Linked DNA regions of Homo sapiens: region 1 is linked to region 2. The links come from fine-mapping of genetic effects on gene expression. A gene starts in region 2. The other region holds a variant in brackets. All regions are shown on one strand. Distances are between the middles of the regions. Region 1 has its middle 29 kb from the start of GRTP1. Region 2 holds the start of GRTP1 (growth hormone regulated TBC protein 1).

Evidence for each region.
Region 1: its variant is fine-mapped to the expression of GRTP1 in whole blood (TOPMed, PIP above 0.99).

What each region holds. Positions count from the first base shown.
Region 1 is chr13:113,391,957-113,394,854 of GRCh38, forward strand. No RefSeq gene overlaps it. Among named protein-coding and RNA genes, the nearest start is that of GRTP1, 29 kb to the left of the region's middle. RefSeq lists an enhancer at 1,507-2,048 and silencers at 1,966-2,315, 2,326-2,435. The variant G/A (reference allele first, on the strand shown) is at 1,471.
Region 2 is chr13:113,362,844-113,365,741 of GRCh38, forward strand. It overlaps GRTP1 (growth hormone regulated TBC protein 1), which reads right to left and starts at 1,287. Exons shown (of 8, transcript NM_024719.4): 1 at 1,177-1,287; 2 at 919-1,067. The coding sequence starts at 1,208. RefSeq lists a silencer at 871-1,165 and enhancers at 2,153-2,846, 2,847-2,898.

The sequences.
Region 1 (2,898 bases), 29 kb after region 2:
GCGGCCACCCTCTCAGAAGACACAGAAACAGAGCACTTTAACCTCCTTCTATCAAAGTCCTAGAAGAGGAAGGTGTGCTTTAAAAACAGACTCTTCTCATGAATCCTGTTGAAGTCTCACTCACTCTGTTGCCTAGGCCGGTGTGCAGTGGCACCATCTCAGCTCACTGCCAGCTTTGCCTTCTGGGTTCAAGCAATTCTCCTGTCTCAGCCTCCCAAGTAGCTGGGACCACAAGTGCCTGCCACCATGCCCAGCTAACTTTTTGTAGAGATGGGGTTTTGCCATGTTGGCCAGGCTGGTTTTGAACTTTTGAGCTCAAGCGATCCACTCGCCTCAGCCTCCCAAAGTGCTGGGATTACAGGTGTGAGCTACCGCGCCCGGCCTTTTTTTTTCTTTCTTTTTTCTTTTATTAAGACAGGGTCTTGCTCTGTTGCCCAGACTGGAGTGCAGTGGTACAATCTTGGCTCACTGCAGCCTCAACCTCCTGGGCGCAACTCATCCTCCTGCCTTAGCCTCCCAAAATGCTGGGATTACAGGCATGAGCCTCCGTGCCTGGCAGTGGGATCCTCTTTACCTGAACTGCCCAGGGACCTCCATAAGTATCCCTGGCTGGGGGCCGTGGGTCACGCCTGTAATCTCAGCACTTTGGGAGGCTAAGGTAGGAGGATTGCTTGAGCCCAGGAGTTCAAGACCAGCCTGGACAACATAGCAAGACCCTGTCTCTACAAAAAAATACAAAAATTAGTGCATACCTGTGATCCCAGCTACTCAGGAGGCTGAGGCGGGAGAATTGCTTGAGCCCAGGAGGTTGAGGCTGCAGTGAGCCATGATTGCACCACTGCACTCCAGTCTGGGCGATAAAGTGAAACCCCGACTCTTAAAAAAAACGGGCTGGGCACGGTGGCTCACGCCTGCAATCCCAGAACTTTGGGACGCTGAGGCCGGCGGATCACCTGAGGTCAGGAGTTCGAGACCAGCCTGACCAACATGGAGAAAACTCCATCTCTGCTGAAAAAAAAAAATTAGCCAGGTGTGGTGGCACATGCCTATAATCCCAGCTACTCGGGAGGCTGAGGCAGGAGAATCGCTTGAACCTGGGAGGTGGAGGTTGCAGTGAGCCGAGATCGCGCCATTGCGCTCCAGCCTGGGCAATAAGAGTGAAGCTTGGTCTCAAAAAAAAAAAAAAGTATCCCTGGCACCTTCTCACAGACAGAACAGGGAAAAGGAGGGGCGGTTTACATCCCTGTGGAGCACAGCAAACCCACACAATGAGCCTTTCAGGTGTGGGGGGCAGGAGCAGGGCGGGGGCTGTCTCCCAGGGACCATCAGTCGGTTGGCTCAGGGGCTCAGGAGCCCAGGCCCGATGCCAGGAAGCTTCTCACCCCTAAGGAGAGGACACGCAGTCAGTCCGACTGGCAAAGTGGCCGGATCAGCGCCTGGCTGTGCCACCCCACATGGAGTGCCACACGC[G/A]GTCACAACAGCCCCATGACGTAGGTCCCAGTATTACTATTTTAGGGAAGACTGTGGTACACGCACCCGGACACACAGTTGCACATATGGCCACACAGGCCTCCACCTCTACTACCCAGACAAGTGCCCCAGTGCGCATCACACATGCACATGGGTGTGTACACAGCCTGCCCAGACACAGCCCTCCACAACACAGGGACCCACCCATGCACACACGCGTGTGCACACACACCAAGCAGACACGGCCCCTACACAACACAGGGACCCACCCATGCACACACGCGTGTGCACACACACCAAGCAGACACAGCCCTCCACAACACAGGGACCCACACATGTACACACTAAGGAAATGTGGAAACACTACGTGACCTCCGGTGGCAAGGCCATGGCTGGAAGCCCTGCAGCCTCTCCGGCTTCCAGGTCCTGATGCCAAGGCTGCCCCTCCCAGAATCCACGAGGAGGTCACCGTCCCCGCTCCGCACCAGGGAGGGGCTCCAGAAGCCCGGAGGCCAGCGCCGAGGTCCCCGCACGTACGCCTGTGTCCCCGGCTCTGGGGAAGGCAACCGTCCCTTAGGGGGCCGGGAACCTGCGCGCCGCCCCGACTCCCGCCCACCCCGGCGGCTCCCGGCGGCTCCCGGCGGCGTCCGGATGTGGCAGCAGCTCGCGGGCCGGGGCTTCCTCTTGCAGCAGCCGCCGCCCGGGAGGCCGGCAGCGCCCCCTGGCGGACTCAGGCAGGAGGCGTCCGGCGAGGCGGGCGCGGGGTAGGCGGGCGCGGGACGGTGCAGCCCGAGGCCTGTCCCTGCAGGTGCAGGAGGGACCCGTCGCTCCCCTGCGCACCGAGGGGGCGACAACCCCTCCCAGAGACCTGCTGCCCGCGGAGCCTCCCCCAGTGACTCGTGCGGTCCCCAAAGGAGAGGCGGGAAGCCGAGTCCTGGAGAAGCCTGGAGACAATGGGCAACAGGGGCATTGGGCCTCCGTCCAGCCCCCGCCAGCGCCCCAGGGTCACACATAGGCCTTTATTTTCTGATCCTGAAAGTGATGCAAGTGCATTTAAATTAACGCAGAAAGCAGTGACAGATAACGACGGGAAAACACACCTACACATCGGGTGTTCGTGGATAACCACTGCTCACCTTTTTTCGCGTTTCTCTTTCTTTGCCCCCTTCACACGTATTTACATATTTGAATCTACTATTTTATACTGGATTTTTTTTTTCTTTTTGAGGTGTAGCTTCACTCTTGTTGCCCAGGCTGGAGTGCAATGGCGCCATCTCGGCTCACTGTAACCTCTGCCTCCTGGGTTCAAGCGATTCTCCTGCCTCAGCCTCCTGAGTAGCTGGGATTACAGGCGTCCGCCGCCACCATGTCCAGCTAATTTCTGTATTTTTAGTAGAGATGGGGTTTCCCCATGTTGGCCGGGCTGAT
Region 2 (2,898 bases):
GACTCCCCTTTGACCCCACTTCTCTGAGTTCCTAGCTCCAGGGCACACTCCCACCAAGCCCTCACCCCAGGCAGACACTTCATTCATTCACTGAACACACAGGGAAGTCGCCTGGCACTGCCCCAGGTTCTGAGGACTGAGCAGTGAATGAAAAATCCGTTGCAGGGAGGAAGGGTTTTTGACTCCAGCAGGGGCTGTGCTGGGAAAGGCAGAAATGAGGAGGTGCCCTCCGCACAGGGAAGCCTGGGGCGCCCCGGAGGAGGGGGCCCTGCAGCTAACCCCGAGGCGGGCGGGCGGTCAGGCCGGTGCTCACCGCAGCAGTAGGAGGCCTGGGGTCGCGGAGGAGCGGCAGGTCGAGCAGGGCCCTGTGGGTCCCGTCACAAGGACGGAGTCTCGCTCTGTCGCCCAGGCTGGAGTGCAATGGCGCAATCTCGGCTCACTGCAACCTCCGCCTACTGGGTTCAAGCGATTCTCCTGCCTCAGCCTCCAGAGTAGCTGGGACTACAGGCAGGAGCCACCACGCCCGGCTAATTTTGTATTTTTAGTAGAGACGGGGTTTCACCATGTTGGTCAGGCTGGTCTCAAACTCCTGACCTCGTGATCCGCCCGCCTCGGCCTCCCAAAGCGCTGGGATTACAGGCGTGAGCCACCGCGCCCGGCATGGATCGAGTTTTGATCCATCCCGATATGGCTCCCTGCTGGGAGGGACGGGTCTCCTTCGCGTCCGACCCGCCGGCCCATCTCAAAGCGGGAAAACCGGTCCCTGCGGCTGCCCTAGCTCGGAGCCCGCAGCTTCGTCCCGACCTGCCCGGAAAGGTTCCTCCCCCTCCCTCCGCTCCGGGAGCCCGGACTTTGCCCGGCCCGTCCCAGCCCAACCCACCTGCGCCCTCGGGACCCACCTGCGCCCCCGGGACCCACCTGTCCGGCTCCTGGGGACGCCCCCGCCCTGCAGCAGCCGGGACCATTTGATCGCCCTGCGGGTGAGCGTGACCAGGTAGCTGGAGAAAAACTTCTCGTAGGCGGCGTCGTCGAAGTCCTCAGGCCGCTCGAATCCGTACGGGTCGATCCTGCAAAACCGAGAGAAGGAGGCCGGCGTCCCCGAAGTTTCCTCTGGGGGGTCGCGGGCCCGCGCGGGGACCGCAGCCGCCGGGGACGCCCGCACCCCGCGCCACACACCTGGGGACCCGCGAGCGCTCGGCGGGCTGCATGCGGGGAGGGAGGCGCGCACCGAGCGAGGCCAGCGGGTCCCAAGTTCGCCTCCCGGCTCCGGGGCGCTTAAGTCCTTCCGGCGGGACCGCGGGCGCGTGGGGGCGGGGCGGGGAGCGGAGAGGGGCGGGGCTGGAGGCGGGGGCGGGGGGGGGCAGGGCGGGGGGAGGGGCGGCTGGGGGCGGGGAGGACTTGGGGAGAGAGGAGGGGCAGGAGCGGGGGAGGGGCAGGGGAGCACCCAGGGCGGGGGAGGGGCGGGGCTGGGGGCGGGAGGACCTGGGGAGAGAGGAGGGGCAGGAGCGGGTGAGGGGCGGGGGAGGGCCGGGGGAGGGGCAGGGGAGCACCCAGGGCGGGGGAGGGGCGGGGCTGGGGGGGCGGGAGGACTTGGGGAGAGAGGAGGGTGGGGGCGGGGCGGGGCCTGCTCCCGGGGCTTCCGAGGCCGCGGCGTCCCGCGGGCAGAATCGGGGGCGCCTCCCGCAGAACCCCCGCGGCCTGGACCCGGGTGAGAGGAGCTTCTTCTGCGATTCCTTCAAACCTCAGTGCCTGGCCGACCCGACTCTGACACCTGACTCCTATTTTTATTTTATTTTTTATTTTCTCCGCTGCATTTCAAGGCCGAGACCAACACACAAATGAGAAGCCCCCAGGGGCGCCCGCCCGTTCCTGCCCCCCCAAACCAGGGACCGGGGTCCCCCCACCGGCGAGCCAGGCCTGGGAGAATCCGGGGCAGCTCTGGTTCCGAACGGCTTCTTCTCGGTCCGCATCCAATGACATTGTCCTGAGATTTCAGCTGCTTTTCGTGTCCGGGAGGCCCCGGAAATTTGCCAGAACTGCAGATTTTGAATTTTGCTCTGGCGACGTGGCAAAGGGGAGCCCCCAGACGTGAGGCGCTGGGGCGACCTCGCCCTGGGTCCCCCAGGGGTCTGGAGCGGGGGCTCCTCCGACAGGCCTCTCCCCGCCTGTAATTTAGGCCCAGGGCGACCTGGACAGGCCCCAGGAGGAGGCCGTCCCCGGACTCCAGACGCACTTTCCTGTGAGAAGCAGCCCGGCCTCGTCTGGGTGAGGCGAGGATCACAGGCTCAGCGTCCCCTGCGCGTCCGTCAGGGCCTTTCGGAACCAACTTGGGACCTTCCCATGGGTGTTTCCGGAATGTTCCATGCGAGCGCCACCCAGGAGCCTGGTCAGCAGCGTGTGGAACGGACCGGTCCCTAAGTGCGGACTCCCGCCTCTGCCTTTCACCCTTCTCCAGCCCTTGCAAGACCGGGGGGCGGGGTGGGGGTCAGTGCCCAGCGGAGCAGAGCCCCCGACACGGTTCCTCCCGTTCCTAGTCTGCTGGTTCTGGGAACTCCCCAAGCTTTCAGCCCAGCTCCTCAGCACTGGCCTTTGGTAACACGCGGCGTCCCTCATTTGAAAGATCACACAGCCCCCACTCTACGGTCTGACCTCCTTGGGATGTTTAGACCCAAGCCAGGAGACAGGGCCATAGCCTCCTGCCCCTCGGCCTACGGGTGCCCCACAGTCCAGGACTGACAGGTGGGCGTCCGTCCCCAGGGTCTTCGAACCCCGTCTGGGCTCCTCTCTGCCTAAGTCAGTGACTCCCTGAACCCCTCTCGGGCTCTAACTGACGCCCGAATTTCCTATATCGCATCCCTCGCGCTTTCTGGAGCAACAGACACAGTCCTGCTCCCCACT